4 separate regions of the Homo sapiens genome follow, and all the other regions are linked to region 1. The links come from fine-mapping of genetic effects on gene expression. A gene starts in region 1. Each other region holds a variant in brackets. All regions are shown on one strand. Distances are between the middles of the regions. Region 1 holds the start of TLE3 (TLE family member 3, transcriptional corepressor). Region 2 overlaps TLE3 (TLE family member 3, transcriptional corepressor). Region 3 has its middle 28 kb from the start of LINC00593. Region 4 overlaps LOC107984788 (a long non-coding RNA gene).

Region 1 (5,000 bases):
CCACCCCTCCTCCACCACTCCTTCTAGACTTCTGGAGGACGACGACAACAAAACACTAAATGCAAGTTTAAAGGGGGGAGGGGAAAGTCTTCAGGCTTCCTCCAGAACGTGGGCTGTGGAAGTGACCTGTTTCAGGCGTGCGCAGGAGTCGCCACACCGTAGAGTTTGGGTTTTCTTTTTCTTTCTTTTTTTTCCTCTTTTCTTTTCCTTCTTCTTTTTTTTTTTTTTTTTTTTTGTTTGTGTGTGTGTTTTTACCTTTTATTATTTAAATTGATACGTTTCATTACTAGGGAGAAAAATAAAATATTCCTTTGATACACAAAATCAAATTGATATTTAGCCTCTGCTTACTTTTTTATGCATGGCTCCTTTATACCACATGGTAGTGACAGATTGTTTGAGCTGGAAGGAAAAGCCATTCAAAGCTAATTAAGCAGCCATTCCAAGCACTATTTGCAAGCGGGAGGCTCAGAAGCCTCGGCATTTGTCAGCGCTCCCCCACCCCGCGTGGTTTTGACTGACAGCTCTGGCCGCGGACTGACAGGGCCCAGCAGCTCCGCCAATCAGCAACGAAGAGCCCCTTCGGCGGTCCGTGATTGGTGACTCGCACCTTGCTCGGAGGCGTGGTCGGCGTCCCCCACGTGGGGCTGGAGCGAGAAATGGGCGGGGCGAGTAAGAAGCGGGTGCGCCCACCCGTGACGTAAGGGGGAGGGCAGAGAAGGGGGAGGGGGAAAGGAAGCGCCAAAGAGGAGCCATTTTGTTTCTAATGAATGCTGCGGCCAGATGCTCGCATCTGTCGAGCCGGGCTTCTCCCTCCCCCGTCTTCGGTGCGCGCCGAAACACGATTTATGTTTTTATTTAGGAGAATAAATAAATGAAGAGGGGAGCGCGGTTCGGGGCTGGCGGCCGGAGCGGGCGCGGGGAGGTTCAGTTCTGAGGCGGGTGCTCACGTGTAACTCCCCGCGCTCCGGCCTCCGAGCGCCCGCTAGCTCTCAGCTCCTCATTAAGATGCAAAAGCGAACCTCCGGCTCCTAATGAGGGGAAAATATAGATCCGGGGACGCGCGGCCGGCTCGCGCGCGGGCTCGCGGACTTGCCGGGGAGGGCCCCGGGGGTCCCGCCTTGGCCGTCCACCGGGCGGTGCGCGCTTTGAGGTCCACTCCCTGCTTGCTCGTCTGCCCCGCCGTAACCCCGAGCGCGGGAGGGCGAGGCCATCGGTTTGCGGGCAAGCTGGCCCCGGAGTCGAGTGGCCTGTGCGACCAAGCGGGGGGTCCGGGGGGCCCGGGGCCGGGGCGAGCGAGCGGGGGAGCGTCCGCGTCCCTCGGAGTGTCCAGGCTAGCGACCGAGACACCTACAGGCTTCCGCCAACGCCGTGGCACTGCCGGGAGCAGGCTGAGCAAACCAGGTGGGAACTCGGAGTTCCCGGGCCTCGGCCGAGCAGGGTCCCGACCCCATCCCCAACCCCCTCAGCCTGGGGATGCAGTGAGGAGCCCGCGCGGCGAGGCTGCGTCGAGGGTGAAGTTGTGCCCACGGGGAAGGCGCCCCGAATGGGGCCAGCCGTGGCTGAGCCTGTTGTCCACGGGCAGCCGGGCCCTTCCATCTGCGCTGCCCGCCTAGCCAGAGTCCCTCAGACTTCTCCTCGCAGGCAGCCGCCGCACATCAAAGGAGCTGTTTATTTGGCTTTCTGAAAAGAAGGGCGAGTGAACAAAGGAGAGCTGGGGGCTAATGTGGGGGAGGCGGGCAGAAGAAGGGGTGAAGAAAAGGGGACATCCTGAGTTCCGAGCAAATTTTTAAAGGTCGGAGGCAACTTTAGGAGCCACCGTTTTATCAGTCCTAAATCTTTTGAAGTGAAAACATTAAAGTGACAAAGTGATTGTTTGTTTTATAGTATCTAATTGGGCTGCTTTGCAGACCTAATGAGATTAGAGGGAGGAATCGTTCGCCGCCGCTGCAGAATAAACTGATACATTACTACCAGCCACAGGTTTTGAAGATTGTACAGCTTGTCTTATTTTCTTTTGTTGTTATTCCTCTGTCTTCCCTCTTTCCTCCTCCCGCTAAATAATTATTTGCTAGTAGACCGTGGGAAAAAAAAGGAGGAAAAAAACTCGAGCAGCCCAGGACTATAATATATATCTATTTATTATATGTCTTTCGGTTAATTCCTGATCTGAGGAGCGCTGTTTTTCACTCCCATGCGAAAGTCACCAGCGGGTAGGGCCTGATTGCTACTTTTCATGCATAGTTTTAGACACAAGAGGGCATTGTGACGTCGCGCCCAGCGGCACCCAGTCGTAGGCCGAGTCCCGCAGCCCCACGTGGGGGCCCCGCGCTCCCATTGGCCAGCGCCGGACGAAGCTGCCACATTATTTTGTTACTTTTCAGTCCCTATTTGGAACTGCTCTCGCGGCAGTTCAGACCTCGTGCTCGTCCCCTTCGCCTGTCTGTGTGTGGTATCCGTAGGTCCGGGGCACTTTTTTTTTTGGTGTGTGTGTGTGTGCGTGCGCGCGTGTGTGTGTGTTGGGTGTGTGTGTTTTGGGGGTTTGCCGGGGCGCGGAGAGGAGAGCCGGGCCGAGGGGAAGGAAGGAAGCCGTAGAGCTCCCCGGTCTCGGGCTGCGTCTCCCCTCCAGCGCTCTCCTGCCTGTGCGCTCCGACGCGGCAGCGGCGGTGGCGCTGAGCGCTCCTCGGTGGGGACGCGGTGCTCAAGCTGGGAGCAGCGAGAACCCTTTGCGGAGGCTTCCCGTGCCCGCTGGACTTAGGATGCCAGGGCGTTTGATTTGCACCTACTGAGCCCGGAGTTCCTCCCCGGCCCTGGGAAGGGCTTGCAGCGGCGGCGGCGGCGGCGGCAGCGGCAGTAGCAGACGGAACAGCAGGCTCTCCTCTCCGAGGGGGGGCGTCGAAGCGCCCGCGCCGGGCTCCCGCCCTCACCCTCCGGCGCTCCTGCGGCCCCAAGCCACCACCTCGTAGCCCGCCTCCTTCCTCTTCTCGCCGCGAGCCCCAGGCCCGGACGCCTCTAGGATCGGACCCGCGCGCCCCGGATGCTTGGGGCTGCCCCGGCGCGCCCCCCTACAGGCGCGACCCGCTGAGTGACCCGGAGGGGGCCCGAGCTCGCCCCAGGAGGGGCCCCCGGCCTCGGGACCCCGCGCCGGACCTGCTGGGGAGCCGACGATGTCCGCGCAGTCCCAGGCATTGACGCGCTCGACGCAGCCCAGGGAAGGCGGCCGGCCGCTGCCCGCCGAGCCCTAGGCGCACAAAGCCCGCGCCCGCCGCCCGGCCCCGGCGCCCGCCGACGACTTTGCCGCCTGCTCCGCGGCTCTTTGTCTCCACTTGGGGCGGGCGCCCGACTCTGGGATTTCGCTGCGAGAACGAGCTGGGGGGGCCGGGGGCGAGCTCTCGGTTTCCCGGCCGCCCCCCGCTCGGGCTCGGCTCCCCCCTCCCCCGCACCTCCCCGGCCCGGGCTCTCGGCGCTTCCACGCTCTCGGAATCACGACCCCTCCCTGCCATGTATCCGCAGGGCAGACATCCGGTGAGTAATTGCAACTCGGTTTATTTAAGCATCTATCATGGCAGGGTAAACGAGGCAGTTTATCTGGCACCTCCATTTTGCTTGTTGCTACCTTTATGGTGTGTGTGTTTGTGTGTGTGCTCTCACACAAAGGGGGATGCGGCCGGGGGGCGCCGTTGAGAGAGGAGGTTAATTCCGCGCGAGTGGCGCGGGGGGCTGCTTGTGTTCCAGGGGGAGCTGTTCACGCGGTCCCCGGCCCCGCTCTGAAGTCTCCCAACTCACCCGGCTTGTCTCCCGCCCCCGCCTTACTGGGGAGAGGGAGGCCCTTGGTGAAAGGCATGGGAGCCCCGCTGCCGACGGGGAGAGATGGGGCGCCCCCCCTCCGCCCCGTCGGAGAGCTGAGAAACTTGCTGGGAAGGTTCTGGGCTGAGGGTGGCCTCTTTTGGTTGGGCGCCGTTGGGGAGGGGCCGGGGCCGCTCTGAGCGCGGTCTCATGCCCCCGCCCCCTCCCCTGTCTTGTCTTCGCGGGCTCCAGGCTCCCCATCAACCCGGGCAGCCGGGATTTAAATTCACGGTGGCTGAGTCTTGTGACAGGATCAAAGACGAATTCCAGTTCCTGCAAGCTCAGTATCACAGGTAAGGCCGGTGGGGGCCGCCCCGGGGCTGGCGGGGAGGGGTGGGTCCCCTGCGCGGCTCCTGCCATCCCCCGCGGGGACGGAGGGGGCTCCCGACCTAGGGGCGGCGGGGCAGCCCGGGCCTCCGCCTTTTGTTTCCCCTTTCCGAGCGCGCCGCCTTAACCCTTTACTGCCCGCAGCAGCCCGGCTCCCAGCGCCGCCCGTGGGGTCCCCGAATGAGGGTCTAGGTCGCGGCGAGCGGGTTCACTCCGGGTTCTGGGTGTCGGGAGCCAGCGTCAGGGTCCTACTCCCCTGCTGCCGTGATAAGTCCTTTGGCTCGCGGGAAGTTTCGAATTGTTTCACATCCCCCTCCCCACGGCGGGGACCCAAATCCCCCCGCGTCCCCAGGCTGTGGGATAATGGGGGCGCCCCCGGGGGGGTGTCAGGAAAGTGGAAAAGTGGCTCTAGAGGCCCTTGGGTCGGGGCCTCAGAGGAGGCTGTCCAGGCGCCACGCCTGAGCCGGCTCCTCCTGCCCTCGCAGCCTCAAAGTGGAGTACGACAAGCTGGCAAACGAGAAGACGGAGATGCAGCGCCATTATGTGATGGTGAGATGCGGCCGCGGGCCTGGGGGGCGGTTGGGGCGCCGACCCCGGCCGGGGGCGCGGCGTGGATCTGGGGAGATGAGCGCCAGGTCCCCACCACCGCCCAGCCGCAGGGCGGCCCTGAGAGAGGGCATAATCTGGTCTTGCCCTCCCCTTCCCCAGCTTCCATTGCCGGGGCCACTTGGAGGAGGGTGAGTGAGGGGAGGGGCAGAAAGAGAAACCCCGATTCCAGGCCGGAGACTTCTGTACTATCTTTATGTGCCTTTAATTTGTGTTTTGAA
Region 2 (8,091 bases), 50 kb after region 1:
CCTGACCCCTGAGCTGGTGCCCCTTCAACACCCTTAAGTGATCTTGTTCCACATCCTTGTTTCTCGGATGCAGATGTCACCATGAGTTATTGAACTCTCAGGACACTAGGCCAGAGCCAGTTCTTGCAGGCTTGGGGCAAAGGAACAGGACAGTAGCAGTGCAGGCAGTTCCTCTCCATGGTTACAACCACTTGCTTTGGCATCTGAGAGCCTTGGATGGGAATGTCTGCTCCTCCACTGACAAGCTGTGCAGTCTTGAACATCTCACCCTCTCTGAACTCTAGTGGATTTTTCTCTCTGGTCGGGAATAGCATGGTGCTCATGGCTTTCAGGGAGCATAAGGGCTTTAACACTTGTAGAGCCCTGGCCGAGTTCCTGCTTGGAGGAAGGTCGCCCACTGACTGCTGTCTTCAGCCAGGTCTCCAGACTCCCAGGGCTTGGATATTTTCAGTATTTCCTGTTGCCTTCCAGTAGTAGAATTTAGAAAGGCCAGTCAACCTTAGTGGCTTTAACAAGAATCTTTTGAGGCAGCGTTATCACTGCAATGAACTTCAAATCCTACCTTTTCCCATCCTAGCCCCGCCCAGCCCTCCCCCTGGATTTCAGAGAAAGGCCTTCTCCAGGTGTCCGCATGTCCCATTTGCAAAATGCCTCTCGAAATTGGAGAGTTATACTAGTTAGCAGTTCTCACTGCTTTTCTATGGCAGCTGGCCATGTCTAGGGCAGGTCTTGCTTTAGAGGGCAGTGAGCTACAACCTGATCATGCCTTTGCCTCCCACCTGCAGGCAAGTGGTTCGTGAGCACTGGGAAAGATAACCTTCTCAACGCCTGGAGGACGCCTTATGGAGCCAGCATATTCCAGGTACTGCCCACCGTCTGAGTCCTCCTCTGGGTTCTACCCAGAGTTGAAACTTGGTGATGGTGATGGGAGTGAGGATAGCAGCAGGAAGAACAGGAGGAGCCTGGAGCCAGGATCAGACCTGCCCTGGTCCCCTCCCCACCCCTACCTGATAGGGGAGCAAGATTGGGTTCTCCCAAGGACCTGGGGACTTCAGCAGGACACACAATCTGCTACTGATGGCTTCTGACCCCCGAGGGCAAGGGCTTCTAAGCCGGGGCGCTTGTCGGATTTGGAGAGTGAGGAATAGCATAAGTGTTTTTGCTCTGGGCTGGATGCTGAGCACCTGCGGGAGGTGCGCTGGGCACCTGGGCACCCGGCAGCCTTGCCCAGAGCAGTGTTGCCTCCTCAAGTGAGTGAGTGTTTCCACCTGCATTCAGCACCAGCAGGGACATGGACAGGAAAGAGAGGAGGAAAGGAAGAGGCTTTTTATAATCTACCAGGATCTGGGGCCTGCCATACTGCACTGATTGGCACACACACGTGTGCACACACACACGTGCACTCTTTCCCATACACGATCAAACTCACACTCATTTACTCACGCACACTTGGTCTCCCCCACACACTTTCTTCCTCTCTCTCTCTTGCGCTTCCACACACACACTTGCATTCTCTCTCACTCCCTCAGCCAACATGCCGCTTTCTGGACCCAGGCTGAAATGTCTGGTGTGCAGCGTGTCAAACCTCATTGTTAGGGTCTCTAGTTACAGCACATGCTTCAAACATCAGGTGGCAATCCTTTTCCTAACTCATCAGGCTGTGGGCCTGAGCTGCTGACGCCAGCTCCTAGCTTGGAAATGCTTCTTCCTATTTGTAAACTCGGAGGAGAAGCTCTTGCTAAAGCGTCCTGTTCTGATCATTATGACTTACTGTAAAGATCACGTGGGAGACTGTTACTGAGCTTTTCCTTATGGAAAAGCAGGTGGGAGGGGAGCTCTACCTGAAAATGCTTCATGGGTGCTTTAAAGCCTCCCCCACCTCCTCTTCACCGCACTGTGCTCCAGGTCGGAGCATCAGAGAGGGGCAGAGGAGGGCAATTGTTGCCGAGAGAACCGAGATGGTGTTGAGCACTGGAAAATGAATTCCTGTCTTTTTTCTCCCTGCACCCCACGCCTTCCTGCTGCTTCTCCTCGTCTTCCTCCTCCAGTCTAAAGAATCCTCGTCTGTCTTGAGTTGTGACATTTCAGCGGATGACAAATACATTGTAACAGGCTCTGGTGACAAGAAGGCCACAGTTTATGAGGTCATCTACTAAACAAGAACTCCAGCAGGGCTGTCAAACTCTGGGAGAAACCGACTCGGCTCTGACAGGGAGACCCCCAGGCGAGGGGCCCCGAGGATGGCGGAGGATGGGCCGCAGGCAGCCGAGCGTTCAGGGCTGCGCTCCGGCCGGCTGAGAGGGCACGTGCCCCGTCACAGTCTGGACTCCTGGGCCTGGATTGATGTGTCTCACAGACTCGGAAGGGTTCTGCTCCTCCTCCTCCCCCTGAACAATGCTGGCAGTTGCTACAAATAGATTTATTGGAGGCTTATGGCTCCGGTTCCCCCACAGACCCGCTCATGAGTCTCTGTTTGTTCTTCCCTTTTCTTTTGCCCTGTCCCTCACCTTGGGTCGGGGGTGCTGGAGTGGACCACAATGTTGTGCTGGGGGATGGGGGGGTCTCTCTTTGCCGATTGTGCAGTGCACAAGATTTGTGAAAAATGTAAATAACAGACTCCTATTGCGGACTGATCAGTGGGAGAGGAGGCCCCTTCCCACCGGAAACTCTGAGTGTGTATTTCGCCTGCTGTATTTGTAATCCACTCGTGGTGGTGGCTTTTTTTTTTTTTTTTTTTTAAATAAACAGATGCTCTCACCTGGGAAGAGGAGACAGGGAGGGGAACCAATTGAAGAAAGAGGAGAAAAGTCTTAGAGTGTGGAAAAGGCAACCAGGTTGGCCGTAAGGTGCCTGCTGGAATGCGTGTGCCTCCACACGGGTCTGGGCATCCGGACTGATAACCAGCCGGCCAGACTGAGGGATGGAAGGCACTGAGATGGGGGCCCGTCCAGGCGGACACCCGCAGAAATGGAGCTTTCTGTGGTCTCTTGCACTCTGGCTGCCTCTTGCCCTCTCTGTGTCTCTCTTTCTTGGTCTCTCCCTCTCTCCTCCTCAGCCTGGTCTTTCTCTTTGGTGCACACTTAGTTATTGTTGTGAGCAATGGAAGTTCAAAGGAACTCCCTCTCCAGCTCTTCTGAATCTTGGGACACAGCCTAAAAAGGACAAAAAGTTAGAAGACAGCATAGCAACTCAGCTCAGGGAGCTACCAGAGAAAAATAGCAACTGATGTGGGTGCTTTTTTTTTTTTTTTAATTTGAATAAAAAGAATTAGAAGTGATGTCCTTTTATAAAATGCCTTCTCCCCCTTCCCGCCTACAGTCTCTTCCTCTCCCCTTAGAGGGGGGAAAGTGTATAAACCTACAGGGTTGTGAGTCTGAAAAGAGGATCCCCCTCACCCCCACCCTGGGCAGAGCAGTGGGGGTTGGGGGGTGGGAGAGGGGGACACAGATCCTGGCACACTGTGGATATTTCTTGCAGATTGCAGTCTCTTGTGGCCCAAACAGGTTAGGTAGACTATCGCCTCTGGCAGGTGCCACCTTTTGGTACCAACATGTTCTGAGGTGTTAGGATTTGGGTTGGGT[T/A]TTTTTTGTTTGTTTTTTTTTTCCTTTTGGTCTTTTTTTTTTTCTCCTTTTAAAGAAAAGCTAAAGGCCGCTGTGAGTCCTGGTGGCAGGCTCTCCATGGATGTAGCATATCGAAGATAATTTTTATACTGCATTTTTATGGATTATTTTGTAATGTGTGATTCCGTCTGCTGAGGAGGTGGGAGGGGCTCCAGGGAAAGCCACCCACCTTCAGTGAGGTTGCTCCCCAGCTGAGCGCACCGGGCATGGGATGTGGAGGCTGGCGACACACCCTGTGCCTCTCCAAGGCTGGGCGCGTGGGGCGTCCAGAGTCTCTCTGGGTCTCAGATGTCCATCTGCCACCTCTTGTTAAGGCTCTAGCCAGAAGGGAGGGTGAGGGTAGAAGAAAGTTATTCCCGAAGAAAAAAAGAATGAAAAGTCATTGTACTGAACTGTTTTTATATTTTTAAAAGTTACTATTTAAAGGTTGGTTTGATTGTTGCGTCTTAATTGCCTCTCCCCCCAGTTTGCCAGTCCCGCCCCCCGCCCCCCGGGAAAACAGCCAGGCCACTGTTGCTGTCACATTCTGGAGCCTGGGCCAGGGCCATTTCCCATCGATGTGAGCTCTTCTCATCTCACAGCATTCCCTGCGCTGCTTCCACCCCCTTCTCCCCTTCCAGATACCCAGCATCGCAGCAGGGATTTCACAATCCCATACTGTGTCGCCTCCCATCCAAGCGCCAGGGAGGGTGGGGGGTAGGAGCTAAGACTTCCTCTGGACAGATGGGCAGGGCAGAGTTCACTGAGGTGAAGGAAGACCACAGGTTAACACCAAAGTATTGTACAGCTGTCAATGCAAAACTTTTTTGGAAAAAAATTAAACGTAATGAACTTGAAGCGAAACTGCAAAGTGTCTGTGAACATCTGGACCTTGGAAACCTGCACAATTTTATTTTAAGCTTAACACGTTTAGGTGGGACGAGGAGATCTTCAATCTCTAGGTCACAAAGGTGTGTTTTTGGATGATACAGAAGGAAGCATTTGCAGAAGAGGCAGACCCAGAAATGCAGGTCATTGTCCCCAGGGAGGGAGTCGGGGGGCTGGGCGGGAAGAGGAGAATGCTGGTGCCCATTCCCGGGGCGGTCCCCAGGCTCTTGGATTTCATGCACCCATTAGCAAAAGCTCTCAGGGCACTGGAGATTAACATGGTTTCCAACTCCTTATTTTGTCAAAGTCATTCTCAGCACAAACAATTGCCTGCTGTCATTTCATACAAGAAAGGGAATCTCACATTTAAAAAAAAAAAGAGGAACGACAGTCTCAGCATAAAGCACAGTCTTTATGACTAGAAGGGACAACTGGCCTCTCTCCACACAGAGGGGTCATTTAGCTGGAGAGGGAGGTCCTCTCAGGCTTATGGAGGAGACAATGCCAGCAGGTAGAAGGGACCAGACAGGCTGCAGTGGGCTACAGCTCTGCCTCAAATGGTTGCAGGGGTGTGAGTCAAACAGCTCTCCTTGGACCATACCTTTCTCGTGTGTCCATCTCTGGGCATTGCAACAGAGGGCTAGGGGGCTGGGAGCAGGCTCTGGCCAGAATAAGATTGTGTGTTTGTCCAGAGCATGAGGTTACCCATGGGAGCCAAGATCAGGGTGGAATTGGGGCTTGCAGGCCCCAGTTTGGCAGAAGAGGAAAATGTCCATCAGGGAATACTCACCCCCCCAGGCTTGTCCTATTGGAAAGCAAGGCCAATGTTACTCTTTGAGGAGAGACTGAACCTCTGCAAGTCTGTTCACTGAGATTTCCTGGGCACACTCAAGGATGGAGAGATGACCAAGAGTCAGTCCCTGCCACAGAAGCTCACAGTTCAAGGTCGGGGAGATGATACAGCCCCTTACTTCATTTGACCTGTGTTCCCACTGCTGCTGTCCTTAATGCCGGCACACTGGGCCTCCCCTGCACTGAGCCTCTCTGCACGTGCTTCCTCCTTCCTCCTGCTGCGTCTCCCCATCCACCACTCCACTGCTTTCCACCCAACCCTGGCTGGCGGCACGAACCACATCTGGGAGCGTGTTAGAAATCTAGAATGAGCCCCTCAGTCCTACCCAAGCAGAATCTGCATTTTAACATGCTGCCGCGATTCCTGTGCACATCAGTATTTGTGAAGCATTCCAGTCTGAAAGGAGGGGCCCACTCCATGGTAAACCTATTCCCATCCTTAATCCCCCCATGTTGCCCCCTTTTTACTTAACAGGGTGACAGGAGGCTTTGATGCCATTTTTCTGGCCTTTATCACCCTCCAAGTGTTCCTTTCCTCTTATGCAGAAATCCAGGCTTGTAGCAACCATAGCGTTTACAACATGTTCCTGCACCTATTTGCTTGTCTCTTCCCACCTAGACTAGTTTCCCTGGAGGGCAGTGCGCAGGACCTCATCAGCCCAGGGCAGTGCTAGTGAATGATGAGCTTTCACCAGTTTGAGATTATCCTAATTCACAGTGTCTGGCGTGATACCCAGGGCATCCGATACTCAGTAACCCGAGCCCAGAGAAGTGAAATGATGTCTGGAGTGTTTTCAATTCTATTGTGCTGTTTTTGCTCAAAGCAAGATCTGTTTTTTAAAAAATGGAGGGCCACAGTTGTCAGAGGCCAGGTTTAATGTTTTAGTTGCCATCAAATTATAAACAAATGGGCTGGGCATGGTGGCTCATTCCTGTAATCCCAGCACTTTGGGAGGCCAAGGTGGGCAGATCACCTGAGGTCAGGAGTTTGAGACCAGCCTGGCCAACGTGGTGAAACCCCATCTCTACTAAAAATAAGAGAATTAGCTGGGCTTGGTGGTGGGCGCCTGTAATCCCAGCTACTTGGGAGGTTGAGGCAGGAGAATTGCTTGAACCCGGGAGATGGATGTTGCAGTGAGCCCAGATCATGCCATTGTACTCCAGTCTAGGCGACAGAGCGAGACCGTCTCAAAAAAAAAAAAACAAAAAAAAAAGAACAAATATTTGGGTCATCTTTGGCAATAGCTGACAAAGCCACCCTTTCTAGCTTCCCTCTGAGTCGCAGCCCCCAGGTGGCCCCAACCCCAGCATGGGCAGTAATTGTCTAACTTGTAGGGTCTCTGAGAAGGTATGGAGACAGAGATCTGGACGCTGGAGCCAGAAGGATCCTTAGCAAGACTGCTAAATGTTAGGTACTGGCCATCAAATGGCCCATAATGATGCAAGTGTAATTTTTTTTCCCAATAACTTATTCAGTGTTTACAAATGAGCATCATTTTTAATATAAAGCAAACAAATCTGAACTTTTAAAAAAATTGTATGATTAATGGAGCATTTTTAAACATTATACCAAAGTTGGACCTTTTATATTTGAAGAGACATCTATACTAAGCCCAATTTTATAGATGGGGCAATTAAGGCCCAGGGAGGGCAAGTGACTTAACATGACTCACAGAGTCCAAGCCAACATTATGATGAAACATCCCCCTCCCCTAAACCCTTAGCACACTCAGGATGGAAAGCTAGGAGGGAACTGCCCAGCCTACAGGACTTGATGTTGCTTGGAGGATTAATATCCAGGGAATGAGTCTTCCTGCTCCTCTACCAACAGTACTGGTAAGGAAATTACTCATGGAAAGGAGATGGCCCAGAACAGTCATGGAAACCAGCCTCCTGCCTCAAGAACTTCCTAGAACTCACCCACCCACCCATCTTGCCCATCCTTCTATCCATCTATCCACCCATCCATTACCCACCCACACATTTATCCGTATACCCCTTCATTCACTCTTCCATCCATCTATCTAGCCATCCTATTCACCCGTCCATCCTACCAACATTTATATAGTAAGAATCTAATATGTGCCTGGCATGGTTCTCGATGCTAAGATGCAAAGATAGTAAGATGCAGTGCCTGCCCTTAGAGCTCTCAGCCAACTGGGAGAAAACAGAAACTGACAATTCCCACTCCATGAGATATGTGAAAGTGCAAACCAGATGTCACCACACATAGCTGAGGCATTGACTTGAGTATGGAAGGGCAGAGCAAGAGGGTCCTGGAAGGACCAAGAGCTAAACAGAAGTGAAGAATACCATGGGCATGCCAATGAAAGGTATGAAGAAAAGTGTTCCAGGTGGAAGGAACAGCATGTGCTAAGGCCTGGGGTAAAAGAGAGCATGGTCCCAACAATGCATCCCTACCTAACCCATCTAGTTCTTGCTCCTCCCTCCAGCTCCATCCAGCCTTCTTACATCCCAGTTCTTGCTGCAACTTCCCGACCCCTCACCCCCACCAGTAGCCTCCAGGCCAGAAGCTGGGCTAGGATTCTGGCTGAGCAGGCTGGTGAAACCGGAGGAGGGAGCTGGACAGAGACCACAATTCCAGCCTGAACCAGGAGAGGCAGAGGAATGGGGAGAAGATGGAAGGAGGCTGCAATTCAGTGTCTGAGAATGCCCATGATAATGCCCCAGGGCTCTGAGTCCCCAACACAATTGGCATCAGAAGACCCGGGGATCTGTGATTGGATCATGG
Region 3 (8,091 bases), 290 kb after region 1:
TTATTCATCCATTCATTCAATAAATATTTATTCTCTGACCCCAGATGTCAGAGCTAAAGAAAACTAAGCTTTGGTCCTTGCCCTCAAGAGACTCACAATATAGTGGGAAAAAAATAATCAGAAAGTAAGGGGCTGAGTAACAGAATGCACAGGGCCTGGGGAATCTCTCAAGGTGACAATGACAGAGGACAAATTTAACTGGCAGACCAAGGTGGGACACTTTTTTTATCCAGCAGTGGCCTCTCTACTTTATACTCACTCTTCCTATGTAGGGTTGCCAGATTTAGCAAATAAAAATAGAAGATGCTCAATTAAATGTGAATTTCAGGTAAACAACAAAGGAACTTTTTAGTGTCTAAGTATGTCCCAACATAAATGCATGGTACTTACACTAAAAAAAAGAATTCTTCCTTGTTTATCTGAAATTCACATTTAAGCTGGCATCCTGTATTTTATCTGGCAACCCCATACAAGAGCTTGTTTCCTGGAGAGAACAAGAAGAAAAAGTTAGAACAGGGAGGGAGAAGAGACTGAAGGGGCCTGGAGGGAAGTGGGGAGGAAAGGCAGAGGAGGCAGGGGAAGGAAGGGTGAGATGGGAGGCAGGGCTGAAGGGAGACAGGTTCACCCTCATTGCAGCTGCTTCTCCCTCCCTCAATTGCCTCCCCCAGTGATGCGCCAGGGAGGCGTGGGGGCATGGCTTGGGAACCTGAGTGTGCTCTCTGAAATGTCAGCAGAAATAAACCTGGCTAATCCTCTGCGATGGCCCGTCACATTAATATCCCTGAAATTCCAAGCGGATTAAAATAACCGTGAGCATGACACCATTTGGAAGGCTGGGGATTTACTTGGAAGAGGTGGCCCATTGGCGAGCATTCCTCTAATTGCTGCTTCATATAAATAGAGTGTTCTTTAATATCGCCACCAGCCCTGGCTGACAGATTTAGATCAGAGCTGTCTAAGTCATTAGTGCCCAGGCCGTGGTAAACCAAGGCTCCGTTAGGGCTGTAAATGGGATTCTCACCGGCCGATCAATCTTACCAAAGCCGCCAGTGTTGCCTGTTGATCTGCAAGGTCCTGAGTGGCTACAGCTTCCCAGAAATGTGCTTGCATCTGTCAGAATTATAAGCAGCTGGCAGCTGACACAAAGGTCATATTTGCTGCTGGTGTGGAAATAGAATCTCCCCAGTACAAGAAATGCTACTTAGCAGTATATCAATTGCAGGCGGGTCATTAAAGGAGGGGTGTGTGTGTGTGTGTGTGTGTGTGTGTGTGTGTGTGTGTGTGTGTGTTACAACCTGGGTTGCCTAGAACCTATATCCTTTGTAGGTCTACCCTGGGCTCAAAAGCAGGTGCTCGGTTGAATAAAATTAAATAATAACTAGTTCGTGATGAAATTCTCAGCACTATCACCATAAGGCAGTTTTTCCTTCTGTCATCTAACAAGTATTTACTGAGTGTTCATGCTGTTCCAGCCACTGTTCTAAGCACTCTATAACGACTTAGTGAAGGCTCTCTCACTTGCTGGCTGTGTCGTTTGAACATGTGATTGGCCTCTCTGAACCTCAGGTTTTCTACCTTTAAAATGAGGATAGTAATACCTGCTTCAGCTGGGTGCGGTGGCTCACCCTTCAGCTGGCCTGTAATCCCAGCACTTTGGGAGTCCGAGGTGGGTGAATCATGAGGTCAGGCATTCGATACCGGCCTGGCCAACATAGTGAAATGCCGACTCTACTAAAAATACAAAAAATTAGCTGGGTGTGGTGGTGGGCCCCTGTAATCCCATCTACTCAGGAGGCTGAGACAGGAGAATCGCTTGAACCTGGGAGGTGGAGGTTGCGGTGAGCCAGGATCGTACCACTGCACTCCAGCCTGGACGACAGTGCAAGACTCTGTCTCAAAAAAAATAAATAAATAAAAATAAAAGTAACACCTGCTTCAGAGAGTGTTGGGAAGCCCTGATGAAATAAAGTTCCTAAGATGCTAGAGCTGGTGATGCTTAGTGTGCCCCAGCCAGCAACAGTAATGGAAACTTACATCAGATGGTAGCATCTGAGAGGTTGGTAGAGGAGATGAGGGAGCCAGGAAAGGATCAGCCAGACTCAGAGGTGGTAAACCAGTTGTGGGCACCTGGTGAGGAGGAACTAAAGGTCTAAATGACTGTGTCTACTCAGGCTCCATCTGAGGGCAGATCTGATTTGGGGAGGGGAATCTCACAGCAATGGCAGGTTCCAGGACAGGGTCTGTGCGTGCTTGTTATGCTCTATTCAAGACAGTAGCCCCAGGGAAGCCAGGTCCTGCTCCACCCAAAGAGAGGGGACAGATAAGGGACAGGCACAGGAGCCTCCAGCAGCATCAGACTTGGGCAAGGCAGAACCATTGGGGATCCCAGGTTGTCTCTTGGATTTTTTTCCTGGCCCTTCTCACCAACCGGAAGGCTCATCAGCTCTGCAACAAACCTGGGATGCTTGTTTTGGAGTTGATTCTCTGTAGGTGAATTGGATCTGAGTTAAGCCAAGCAATTCTTTGACAAGTTGGCTCCTAAGATGGGATTGCATAAAGCGCCATGGCAAGAAGTCCGTTTTCTGTGCTGTGACAGAATTCCACCCAGAATCCACTGAAAGTTCATCTAGGGAGGTTGCTTTTGCAAGACTCAGCAAGTGGGTTGCTCCATCTCAGCCATTGGCACATTCCTCATCACTGCTTGGTTCCTTGTGTCAACACAACACGTTACATGTTTATAAGTCTGTTTTGTCTCATGGCTTGTAGGAGTCTCACATCAGCATGCATCAGCTCTCTGGGTGGCCACTTGACCCAACACAAAGAACTCAAACTTTGGAATCCCTCAGCCCTGGAATCACACCCACCTTCACCATCAGTTCCACTCAGTAGTCCAAAAATTCTAAGCCCCACCTTTGTATGCATTTTAACGGCTCTGAAATCGGAATGTGTCTTGCAATCAGTGACACCTTGCTGTTATAATTGGCAGTTCTTTTTCTTTTTTCTTTTTTTTTTTTTTTTGAGATGGCGTCTCTGTCTGTTGCCCAGGCTGGAGCGCAGTGCCGCGATCTCAGCTCACTGCAAGCTCCGTCTCCCAGATTCACACCATTCTCCTAGCTCAGCCTCCTGAGTAGCTGGGACTACAGGCGCCTGCCTCCACACCCGGCTAATTTTTTGCATTTTTAGTAGAGATGGGGTTTCACCGTGTTAGCCAGGATGGTCTCAATCTCCTGACCTCGTGATCCACCCGCCTTGGCCTCCCAAAGTGCTGGGATTACAGGCGTGAGCCACCGCGCCTGGCCCCTTTTTCCTATTTTTGTTGTTTGTAAAATAATTGTGTGTCTTACAATCTACTGAGTCTTAGAGTTGATGAATTAATTATGTGTCTGAGCTTTGGCAGGTTTCTTCTTTTGAAGCTGTTTCCACATCTGTAAACCGAGGCTGACTGCACCTCCCCAGCAGGGCTGTCATGGAGACGAAGTAAGATCTGATTGGAAGTGGAAAGTGCTCAAATGTGGTAGACACTGGATGCATGAAAGCTGCCACCACTGTCAGTAGGGCAGCAAAGGTGACCTCATTTTACAGATGAGGAAACTGAGCCCCAAGGGGAGGCTTGACCGAAGTCCCACAGACACAGGCAGAAATTTAAGATTTTCAAAAGACTGTCATCTGCATCATCTCCTCCAGTGTTTACGATCACCAAGCCAGGAACAAGC[G/A]TGACTCATCGAGGGTGCAACCCAGGAGGCCTAGCCTCAGGAGGAACAGGGGCTGCTCCTGGGCACTCAGTGGCTGCTGGGCTTGGGCCCAAAGGCAACCAGCAGTGCCAGCCCTATTTTACGGGAAGTCACTGCCAACATGCTGCCAATCATTTTAACTTTGACCTGGGATGTGGGTAAGGAAAATCAAAGTCAAATGGTGTTTGATAATAATTCTAGGAGACAGGTGCTTGCAACCTTTCTAAAGAAAATATTGTGGACTAGTTTTAACTCTATGCATAAACTACAGTTTACATTATATCAGAATGAATGTCACAGGCCACACATTCAGATTTTTTTTTTTTTTTTAAAAAGAAAAATCTAATTTCTCCTTTGATCCGCTATTCCACTTTTAGCAGGACCGCCATTCAAGTCAATTCAAGGCTTTCCCCTTCTCACCTTCTCCCAGAGGATGGATTCAGTTGAGGTGGGGAAAACATCACATCAGTGCATCTGGGGAAGCAGGCCTGGCTCTCTGCCGTCAGCTGTCCACCCTGGGCGCCACTGGACTGGCCATTGCCCAGCTGGTCCTTGGTGGCGGCCACCCCTTGTGGACTGGTGGGGAATCCTCATTCCTGCCCTTGGTCCACACCTGCACCTGCTCTTACATCCTACCATCCCAGGCTCAAGGCCCTCCAGGTTTTCTGGCTCTCAGGACCATCAGATACACTCAGAAACATTCTGTTGTTCGCTACACAACACCGGGGGGATGAGGGCTTGTGATGCGTCCTGAACCCCCCGGAGGTTGCTTCCTGCCTATCTATTGGTCCTTCACGACACTGAATGCTGGGACTTCTCTATGGAGCTTCCTGCCTCCCCACGGAGTGGGGGCACCTGTCTCTCTTCTCTCTGATCCCCTAAATTATTGGAGATTCTATCGTCCCCTCAACTTCAGAGTTTGAGAGCGTGGAACGTGTAGGCAGGACCATTCCCAGAGATTCATGCCAGCATTTAATTCTCTTTCCTTCTAAGGACTTTTTTTTTTCTTTGCTCAGGGAGTCATTAATGTAGACTGGGTAGGTGGGAAAAAGTAGCTTAACAAACCATACACTAGTCCTCCTGATTTCTGTGTGTCAGGACTCGGATTCTCGAAAGGCAAGATTTTGAGACTCTCAAACTATTGTCTCTGCCATGGGTTTCGAAAGCTGCATATTTGTTTCTCTCTCGCTCTGCATTTCTGCTCTAGTTACTCTACCATGAGGCCAGTGAGTAAAGAATGGAAGGAGGGTAGGAATCCCCAAGGAGAGCAGTAGTTGCGAATGTTTCAAATAGTTCATATCCTTCTATCATGGAAGCAGGAACGCTGCAAGGTCTATGTTGCTGATTAAATCAAGATTTTAAACACTTATGTAAAAGAGTACCCTTGGCTGCATAATCTGAACTGCAAGACAGGAGATGGGCTTTGTAACCTCATTCTGCCCCCAACCAGATGGGGGCTTCCTTCCTGTGTGAGTCGTTGGGAGAGATGGGCTCCGGGCTTCTGCTGCAGAAGCCACAAAAGCCTCCCACCTGTTCTCCCAGACCCTAACAGCCAGGGAGGGGAACGCAGTCTGTGCTCAGCCAATCACCTGTACCCACTGGGAAGAACACAGAGAGCCATGGGTCCATTTCTGATGCATCATGGGCCGTAGCTGAAGTGGGCTAATCAGATTTCGTGGCATGATCTGGCTATGCTCTCAGCAGCCCACTTTCCCTTGGCTTCTGCTTGTTTTCTGGACCTGGTTCTCCAGTCTTCCAGTGGGTTCAGTGGCCTTCTCCATATCCTTCCATCAAATCTCATTCTCCCTAGGTATCCAACATCGGCATCTATGTGGTGCAGCCAAGAGCTCTGACTGGTGATCATGAGTAACTCAGTTCTTCTCTAACGACCTTGGTGTCCTTCTCCTATGAAAGGAGGTGTTTAAGGCAGGTGAACTCCAGGATCTTACAATCTACCTTATGCTTTAAGTGCTTTGGGGCTGAAATGCATAGCCCAGTTGGTCAGTTCACCCATCCATGTCCGACGCTCCACCATTCTCTAGGTGGCCCCTATCTACATTTCAGGGACTAATCACCCTCTGCACAGTCAGCCTGGCACCCCATTCCATCCAGTATGCGAATGATCCACCCACAATGAGTTCCACAATCATTCAATCAACCAGGCTCCTTTATTACAGGACTTCTCAGAGCCTTTAATATGCTAATATACTTTGTGATCCTCTAAGAGAAGACTATAATACACATAAATCATTTCCCAAATCAATTTCGTCGTACACTTGTTGCCTCACTGCCTCTTTCAAGAACTAGAACATAATGGAACACTGCTGTGGAAAAAAGATACCAAATGTCACATGAGGAAAGACGACATCTGGCTTGACTTCCAAAACATACACACGCACAAACTTGCACATGCAGGAATTCTCTGGTCCAGCCTGACTGCATTGTAACTTTTTTCTTTGGCCGCCATTCAGCTTCCTGGATGCACAGGGATAACCAGTGTTAAGTGCCTTCACCTGGGGTTCTATGCCCAGGGCAACAGTCAGTGGTGACTCAGGGTTTGGTGTTTCCACACTCCACAGGGGCTGCTCTGTGCTCCGTGCCACTCAAGATGAAGCAAGTGCCACAACACCTGTGCTCCCTGAACCCTGGATGAGCAGCTGTGATGTGTGCAGTGTGCAATCCCCTGCCCCACAGAATTCCTGGTGGAGAAGAGCAAATAAGCCAAGTGTGACAACAAGCATGACACACTGGTGTCCCTGCCCAGTGGGGCCTGAGTGCCCACTGTCCAGCCTCTCAGGCAGCCCTGGCTTGGCCTCTAGGGAGAGTTTGGAAGCTTTCCTGACACCTACCCCTAGGTCACAGAAAGCCTCAAACATACCACAGCCCCCGTTCTGTTCTCCCATAGACCTGCCATTCAGGAACATGTCAAAACATTTTGAAACCATTTCTCAAGTTGTACCCTGTCTGGAGAGAACAGCTTCCCTAAGTGTGCGGCTTATTGCATCAAGGATTTCCTTGAGAAGCTCTAAGGGGAACTCCTCAGATCTCTATCACAGGGCTGGCTGGAGATGCCGGCACCCAGATCCCTCCAGGAGTGCTTGACTGTGACTCCATGGATTCCATGGGGATATGAGAATGGTCCCCTTTAACCTTTTTGCCTTCCAAACTATAAATATCAAGGAATATGTCTTCCTTATTATATTTGGTCTTTTTCTTTTGCTGATCATACTTGTATCAGTGAGGACTCATTCTACTTCAGTTAACTTATAATCTGACCCAAATGTGTTTAAACCTAAAAGAAAATTTATTAGTTCCTATTACTAAAAGATCAAAGGGTAGGGCCAGCTTCAGGCAAGGCTGGATCAGGAGCTCTGTGCTGTCTCCAATATATGACCTCTCTCCAGTCCTCAGCTTTATTCTCAAACTCAAGGTAACACCCAAGGCTCATTTCACAAGCCTGAGGGTTCAAGTCTAGCAGGGAGACTTGAGCCTGCTTTCCACAAAAGTCCTGACTTCATTCTGATTGTACTAGCCTCTGGTAACATGCCCACCCCTGAACTAATTGCTGTGACCTGGGAAATGAGAAGTGATGATTGGCTTAGGTCAGGGTCATGTGCTCTACCTCAAGAACCCCCACCCAAGCCACCTGGGCTAAGAGAGGGCTTGACCCCAAGTCCAATCAGGAGCTGTTGTTAGGCGATGAAGAAATGAATGTGAGGGAGGGGTAAGCAATAAGTGTGTGCCAACTACTAATTCACAAGACATCTAGCTCAAAACAATGAGTGACCAGGGAATCTTTAAAACTTCTCACTAAGGAAGGAAAACTAGGCCCCTGCTTGGCCACCGCTCAGGATATGCAAGCTGAGAGCCCATGAGTTTCGGCACCCACTTGGACTTTCACAATCAGAGACGGCAGCGGTGAAGGCATGAACATTGAAAGCTACCAGGCCTTGGTATTCTCATCCGATATATGCAAGATACTGGCAACATTATCATCAAGCAATGGCTTCGATGCAAAGCCACCACAATGCCTACAGGAAGGCCGGGGAATCCTGTTGCAGTCTTCCTTGGTACTTCCCTCCTGCACTTCCTCCCCAAAGCTGTTACGATAACCAGGCTGCGTATCCTTAGTCCTTCTATGGCCATCATGTGACCTGGCAGGACTCCCCGTGCAGTTCTTTACATTTCAGAGGGTCTGGGCAGCAGCCACATGACAGCAGTAGAATCCAGGCATCCACAAGAGAAGACCAAGATTTGTCCAAAGAGGAAGAGATGGAGATCAAGTTAGATGCAGAGGTAGAATGTGACCTGAGCAATATGGAAATCACCAAAGAGCTCCGCCAGTACTCTGCAGAGTGCC
Region 4 (8,091 bases), 340 kb after region 1:
ATACAATGAAATAATATTCAGCCTTTAAACAAGGAAAGTCTGATACATGCAACAAATGGATGAACCTCAAGGAAATAATGCTAAGTGAAATAAGCCACTCACTAAAATACCAATACTACATCATTTCACTTATAGGACGTACTTAGGGTAGTCAAAATCATAGAGACAGAAAGTAGAATGGTGGTTTTCAGGTGCTGCGGGGAGGTAATGTTTAATGGATACAGAGTTTCAGTTTTGCAAGATGAAAAGAGTTCTGGAGATAGATGATGGTGATGGCTGCACAACAGCATCAATGTATTTAATACCACTGAATGGTACGCTTAACAATGGTCAGAATGTTATGTGTATATTACCACAGTAAAAAAGCTGAAAGAAATACGTATATAAACACACACACATATATATGTATATAAAACATACAAACACATGTATACAAACAGAAAAAGAAAAACCTAGAACTCAAAAATGTCAATAGTGGTGATATCTTGGGATAATGGAGTTATTGGTGATTTTTCCCTTTCTAATTATTCTAAATAAATTTGTATTACTTGTTGAATTAAAACAAAACCAGGGCCGGGCACGGTGGGTCATGCCTGTAATCCCAGCACTTTGGGAGGTCAAGCTGAGAGGATTGCTTGAACTCAGGAGTTCAAGATCAACCTGGGTAACATGGTGAAATCCCCCTCTCTACAAAAAATACGAAAATTAGCCAGGCATGGTGGTGCATGCCTATAGTCCCAGCTACTTGGGGACGCTGAGATGGGAGGATCCCTTGGGCCATGGAGTTCAAGGCTGCAGTGAGTGGAGATTGTGCCACTACATTCCAGCCTGGAGACAAAGTGAGACCCTGTCTCTAAATAAATAAATAACAAAACCAAAAGACTAAAAATTAGATTGAGGGAAGACCTATTTCTATGAAGTTATCCCTAAATCTTAAGGGATTAACAAAGAAGTTAATCATACCCAACCCTACACTTGAAAACTGGAAACAACCCTTTATTCTATCATTCATAGCATTGTAGTCTAGAATGTTCTTATAGCAGGTAGGTGTTATTTGACCAGCATCCTTTAATTCAGGGCACCACCACTCTGCCATTTCATGATTTTGAAGTGGGATTGACTGGATGTCTTATTCTTTCCCAGGCAACATGGATGAGCCTCAAAAGCATTATGCTAAGTGAAAGAAGCCAGACTCAAAGGCTGCATACTGAATGATTTCATTTACAAGATATTCTAGGTAAGGCAAAATGATAGTGACAACGATCACATTAGTGGTGGCAGGAACTAGAGAGCTGGGGAGGGGGCTGGCTCTAAAGGGACAGGAGAGAACTTTGGGGGATCCTGTAAATGTTCTCTGTTATAAGTGGTTATAGGATACTACACATTGTCAAAACTGAATGCATTGTACACTCTGAAAGGTTAAATTTCACTGAATAAATAAGTTCAACACATGTGACTCAAAAAATAAATTAAAACTTTCGTTTTATTTTTTCTTTTATTTGTTTATTTATTGAGAGATAGAGTCTTGCTTTGTCACCCAGGCTGGAGTGCAGCGGTGCAATCATAGCTCACTACAACCTCAAACTCCTGGGTTCAACTGATCCTTCCGCCTCAGCCTCCCAAGTAGCTGGGACTACAGGTGTGCACCACCACGCCTGGTTAAGTTCTTACATTTTTTTGTAGAGACGGGGGTCTCTCTATGTCTCTGACTCCTGGCCAGGCTGGTCTCTGACTCATGGTGGAGCTGGTCTCGAACTCCTGGCTTCAAGCGATCTTCCCACCTTGGCCTTGCAAAGTGCTGGGATTACAGGCATGAGTCACCATGCCAGGCCTCAAAACTTTTACAACAGTTTTAAAAATTAATAAGAAGGACACTTTAAACAAATCAGCGAGAATGGCGGGTAAAAGACCCTTTGGGGCCTCGGCTCTGCAATGGAACAGCTGGCTTAGGCCAGGGGAACTGACAGCCCCAGAGACATGAAGATCATCAACATCTGTCTTCTTACAAGCAGCAATGGAATGAAAGTGGGAGAAGCCCCAGGGGCACCAGGGAAGAATATGGGCAGGAGGGCTGGGCAGAGTCCGGAGCCCAAAAATCCCCTTCCCTGGTACTGGTGCCCCCTCAGACACTCTGGGCTGTGCCCAATCTGCCTCCAGCTCTGCCTCAGCTCACTGCCTGCTGGAGCCATCTCCCAGGTCTTGGCAGCTCTCCCTCCTCACTCTGGTACTGACCACCTGGCATGTTTTCCCCTCTAGTTTGCTTCAGAGCCTTCTCTCTCCAACTGCTCCGTAGCTAACCCCAGCCTGACTCCAGCCTCCAAAGCCAGCTATTGAGAAAAAAAAATTATAAATGGGAAACAGTTCGAGATTTGGAGCTTATTAGATTTCAAGTTGGGAAGATCTACAAAAGATGCTGATGCTGCTTTGAAGGCACATATACTTCCTTCCTAAATTCTTGCTCTGATTCCTAACTAGCAACAGATAACCAAGTTACCTCACTATCACCTAATGCCAGTAGGAAGAAGGAGAACATTAGAAATAATATTATCCTTGGATATCTCAAAGAGCTAAAGGCTGAAGTTGTCCTAACCAGCTGCTTAACCAGTCACAACTAATTATCAGGTGAGAGAAATCAGGAAAAGCCATGCCACTTCAGCAGAATGGACAGCCCGGCTGGGCCCCATCAAACTTAGGGACAACTAATGTGTTCTTCCAACTCCCTGATGTATCTCCTCGGGATTGTGGTCCATGGCTTCTCTTCTCATTTTCCTAAAAAATCTCTCATAAGCCTGGGGCTATAGGAAATTAATATTAGTAGTGATGGGCTCAATTTCTAACCTCTGCATGGGCAGGGGATGTGGAATTTGCATACCACTTCTGTATATGCCTTCTATATACCATTTCCTAAAAACAAGAAAGACTACCCACCCCACCTCACTCCCAAAATAACCAAAATGATAAAGCCCAGGCTATTTGACAAGGGAAGTTGAGTCTGTAGTCAAATGCTTAAGAGATTTCTGTTTATTTAACTCTGCTCCATGCATCGCTCTAATAAGGTTGTAGAAGGGACATTGGCCACACCAAAGGAAGCTCTCAGGGGCACTCATAAGCAAGGCTTGTCCAGAGAACTCTTGTGGAGGGCTCAGGCTGAGAGGAAATGTAGGACAAGATGCCCCGGGTCCTGGTCCACACTGGCTGGTCCCTGGGAGCCAGACCATGAAACAGAGAGACATGAACCTCAACCAGCACTGCTCTCTCTCTCATCCAAAAGAGCTTCACAAGGAAGGATATCCTTCAACACCTGTCCGCTCCAACCTCAAGCCCCTCCCTCCCGATCTGCTCCCATCCCCAGCAAGGACATCCTGACCATACACAGAATAAAGAGCTCCCCCTTGAGTGTGAAATGAGATGAAGCCGTACATTTCTCCTACAAGGCCTGGAGTTCCTCCATTATTGATAGACCTAGGAGAGTCAAGCATTATCCTCTCCAGGTTCATCTTTCCAAAGGTATATTTTTCTGAAGGGGGAAAACATATTAAGGCTCATGGATCACAGTGTGAATAAACTAAGCTGTTGGTTGATGCTGTTTCATGCTCTGTCTGAAGGAACCTGGGCAGGTGAGAGCCCTGGCACCTGGAGCCAGCTGGCAGAAAGAGCAGGGGAAGGACAGGGGCAGAAGTAAAACTCTATGGATGTCGTGATTTGATCAGGCACCAGCTCTGCCGAGGACCTCTTGCCTCCTGCAGATCACAAAATCCCAGACTGTCAGACCACAAATACTCTTAGTTCCAACTCTACCATTGGAGATACAGGGAAACTGAGGCTCAGAGGGGCAAAAGAGATTCCATGGCATCTTACTCCTGGCCTATGGTTTTGCTTTTTTTCATGAAGAATTTTTGGGATTCTAGAAGCTGGGATAGTAAGGAACTTTAGAGATCATCTAATTCAGACTCGCATTAAAGATGGCTATGTTCTAGAACTCAGCCGGCCACTTCAGACAATAGGCATGGTGCTCTGATCATCCCTGGAGAACAAACTCACATGAGATATGCATACAATTGCGTACCAGTGACAGCAGATTAAGAACCTGGCCACAGTTATTAAGGATCTACTATAGGCTAGGAAGTTGACAGAAATTATTTCAACCTATATTCTAAACTATCTTTTGAAGGCCATTATAATTATCCTCACTTTATGGTGGAAGACACTGAGAATCAGAAAGGTTAAGTAATTTATTCAAAGTCACAGCAGTAGTAAGTTCAGAATATGGGATTTGAACCCAGGTCTCTGAGACTCAAAAAAAGCATGATTGTGTCATTAACTCCTCATGGTGTTTGTATGAAGACAGAGAGATTGAAAAATGTTGAATTTTACCTCTTTATTATCCCTAATGGTGGAGGAGGTGGTGCTGAAAGGCTGATTGTAGAGTTATCAATCTTATCTATCTTTTAGCGTAAGTTCCTGCTTTCATTGACCATCTTCCCAGACTAGGTCACTT[T/C]CTCCTATTACACACCTCAGTATTTCCCTTCACAGCGCTTTTCACAGTAGTGATTTAATTGCCAATGTAATTATTTGGTCAATACTTCTCTCTGTCAATAGACTATAAGACCCATGAAGGTAGGGACTGAGTTCAGAGTCTATCTTGGTCACCACTACATCTTCTGTGCCTAGCACAGGGCCTATACCAAATATGTGCTCATAGTATCTGTGGAACAAATAGATGAATGGTTGGACGGATGGGTGGATAGATGCATGGATGAATGGAAAGATGCATACATAGATAGAAGGATGAATGGATGAATGGACGGACGGATGGATGGATGGATGGATGGATGGATGGATGGATGGATGGATGGATGCCTGCATGCATGCATGCCTGGATGGGTGGGTGGACGGACAGATGCATGGATGGATGGATGGATGGATGGATGGATGGATGGATGGATGCATAAATGGATGGTCAAATGTATGGATGGTTGGATGAATGAATAGATGAATCTCAGCTCACTGATGTCCTGAAATGTGCAGTGACCCAAAGCCCTGGGCTCTGAGAACCAAAGCAGACAGGACTTTGTTTTTGTTTCTGAACACTGCCTGTGTGGTGAGTCACCCAATTTTTGAAAACCACATGCTTCTTTCCACAATCAGGCTGCCCAGAGGGGCCCCCAAGCCTCAAAGAGCATCAGGAAAACACTGCTCACACGCACAATTACTGCCAGTTTCTTATCGTTGCTGCTTTGATGTGCTGTTTGTGAGTCAGAGCTGCTGTTGCCTCAATGCTGTTCCTGTTTCAGCAGCATTCTGACATTTTTTTTTTTTTTTAAAGAAAAAAGTCGGAAGTGGCAGACTCTGTCTTTGGGCTAGGACTACAGACTGTTATTTGATTTGATTACTGCTTCATTTGATTATGGATGGACTCGGGATTGAGGGGGATAAGGATATCAAAGAGAAAATGGTGGCCATATCCCACCTACGCTAAAGTAAAGAGTACCACTCCAGCCCTTTGGAAGAGAACATCCCCAACTCTTCCCCAGCAGATCCACTATATGGAACCCACTGTGGTCAGACTGGGGTCTGGCTATTTCCTGCCACACCCTGAACTTTCTCACTTCCTTTCTTACCTATACATTTCCAGTTGCCAAGAATGTCACCCCTCTCCCCATCTCCACCTCTCAAAAATACCATGCAGCCTTCCAAGGCTAAACTCAGTTACAGCTTTCTCCACTGAGCCTCTTCTGTTCACTGCAGTCAACAGTCTCCTGACCTGCCTGCTCTTTGAGATCTTGTAACATTCACTTCCCATGTGCTAATTTACTCATGTTACTATCTGACGATAATGTGCATTTTGCAATGTTCTGTTGCAATTTAAAGGAAGAAAGTTATGATGTCTTGAGGATAATGGCACTCTTGGGGCCAAAAGAAAGAAGCTGGAGTCCAACTAAGCTACTTTCTTCCTATCTGATCTCTGAGAAGTTATTACCCTCAGTTTGTTCATCAGTAAAATCAGGGTTTTTCTAGACTTGAATATCAGATAAGATAATCGTCCTAAACATGCTTTGTAAACTGTACAATTGTGGTGTATATGAAGAATAATTAACATCATCTTCATCCTTTCCATCATTACTGTCAGCATCATCAGCATCATCACTGCACTTCTATTTCACTTCCCATGTGTTAACATACCTGGATAACACATATTTGTTATCTCCTAAGCTGGACTGTGGGTCTCTCATGGTTAGGGACCTAGCGGCATACCTCTGAACCTCCTTATCTTACACATAGCACAGGGCTGGGTACACCGTTGATATCCAGTGACTGTTTCTCAATTGATTGATAAACTCAGATGAAAATAACTCAATAGGAGAAAGCTATATATGACAAGGAATCTTTCAGAGGTCCTGTTTTATTTCTTCCTTTGTTGTAAAAATAACAAATGGAAAGAAGTACATTATTAAAGTCAGCAACATCTCTCCCCGCACCTGACAAGAATGGTCTTGCACATTTTTTTTGCCATATCCCTTGACAGCACCAGGACACTTCTCATTCCATAGTCTCATCCAACCTTCAAGAGAATCCTTGAAAAGGAAACAGGGAACCGCAGGTGCATAACGTCCCATTCTACAGTCAAGTGAAGTGAGGCCCAGCAACATGATCTCACTTACTCCAAGATGGAGCATTGAGTCATTGGTAAAACCCCGCCCATGAAGGAGGTCTCCTAACTCTTGGCCCTTGGATGTTTTGAGGTGGACACTGATTCCACTGAAAGAGAATTTTCTACCACTAATCAAGGAGACAGAGGTTTTATAAATGATACCTTATTTATTCTTCATGGTGTCCTTGAAAATGACCTATCATCATCTCCTTTGTATCCATGAGGAAACTGACACTCTGAGAGGTGAAGTGACCTGCCCAAGGTCACGGAGAAGAGGTGGGGCCAGGCTCTCATTTCCCAGTACCCACTGAGCACACTCTAGGCATGTGGGCTGAGCCTACTGCCGGGCTGTGAATCTCTCCCCCCTGTTCTCTGGTTCCTTGATTCACAGGAAGTTCAGGTCAACCACATCCTGCCACGTCTTTGCAGACAAGATAACGATCCCCACCACCACCATTCTCTGTCCCACCACAGCCCAGCAAGGGCAGACAGGCTTCCTTTACTCTTTTGATAACCACTGTATGTCACAGCTAAAAGGGGCCTAACTCTGAGTTTCCCTCCTTTAAAATCATCTGGTCCACATGCTAATGGTCCAGAATCCCCAGGTCATCTCTATAGCTTGAAATAATCATTCTAAAGTAGGGGTCCAGGAATCTGTATTTTTAACAAGCATCCTGAGTGATTCAATGAGTGTTCAAGTTTGGGAAACCACTAGTTAAACCCTGCTGGGATGACTTTTCCCTGTCATCCCAGTAGTGTAGGCTGGGTTGTATCTTTGTCATACTTACTGTGTCTGTTATAAGGGGCCACTGAATGCTACTGAATTTGTACTTTGCCATTAAGGAAGAAGGCCTGGAAAGTTAATTAAGCCAGCTTGAGATCTAACCCGTCCAGCTCTGCATAAGCAAGAGGAATGATGCATTTGGAGGCCCTCCTGAAGAACTCCCAGCATGCCAGCCTAAGTCCACATGTTCATCATCTGAAGCCACCTTCTTGGAGTGATCTGGAACTGACCCTCAATCCACAAACATTAACCTTTAGCCCAGCAGTAGGCAAACTACTTCCTACAAGCCAAAGCCTGCTGCTTGTTTTTTGTGAAGTTTTATTGGCACAGAGCCACACCCATTTGTTTATATATTGTTTATGGCTGCTTTTGCACTACTATGGCAGAATAAAGCCTAAAATATTTACTATCTGGCGCTTTACAGAAAAAGTTTGCCAACCCCTGCATTATCCCATCTATCAACCAGCAAAGCTTCATTCCTGTGGCTGTATCAGATGGCCTCTGGCTTTCCCAGTCATGTACCCACAGTATCACAGCAGCAGAGTGCTTGAGCACCTCGTAGGGACTTTAAAAACATGTTGAATGAAGAACCATCACAATGAGCTATTTCAATTTCCATTATGCAAATGAAAAAAATCACAGCTTTTAGAAACAT

Evidence for each region. PIP is the estimated chance that this variant, and not a neighbour inherited with it, causes the effect.
Region 2: its variant is fine-mapped to the expression of TLE3 in whole blood (TOPMed, PIP 0.99).
Region 3: its variant is fine-mapped to the expression of TLE3 in whole blood (TOPMed, PIP above 0.99).
Region 4: its variant is fine-mapped to the expression of TLE3 in whole blood (TOPMed, PIP above 0.99).

Annotation. Positions count from the first base shown.
Region 1 is chr15:70,095,300-70,100,299 of GRCh38, reverse strand. It overlaps TLE3 (TLE family member 3, transcriptional corepressor), which reads left to right and starts at 2,383. Exons shown (of 20, transcript NM_001105192.3): 1 at 2,383-3,525; 2 at 4,039-4,139; 3 at 4,659-4,722. The coding sequence starts at 3,502. RefSeq lists enhancers at 26-1,063, 1,151-2,125 and silencers at 1,056-1,205, 1,276-1,355, 2,945-3,114, 3,125-3,244, 3,965-4,394.
Region 2 is chr15:70,044,162-70,052,252 of GRCh38, reverse strand. It overlaps TLE3 (TLE family member 3, transcriptional corepressor), which reads left to right. Exons shown (of 20, transcript NM_001105192.3): 19 at 786-862; 20 at 2,049-4,463. The coding sequence ends at 2,156. Among named protein-coding and RNA genes, the nearest start is that of MIR629, 31 kb to the left of the region's middle. The variant T/A (reference allele first, on the strand shown) is at 3,582.
Region 3 is chr15:69,803,599-69,811,689 of GRCh38, reverse strand. It overlaps the pseudogene GEMIN8P1. Among named protein-coding and RNA genes, the nearest start is that of LINC00593, 28 kb to the left of the region's middle. RefSeq lists a silencer at 6,512-6,708. The variant G/A (reference allele first, on the strand shown) is at 3,714.
Region 4 is chr15:69,758,172-69,766,262 of GRCh38, reverse strand. The region is part of intron 2 of LOC107984788 (a long non-coding RNA gene); the gene reads right to left. Among named protein-coding and RNA genes, the nearest start is that of LINC00593, 73 kb to the left of the region's middle. RefSeq lists an enhancer at 5,261-5,330. The variant T/C (reference allele first, on the strand shown) is at 4,499.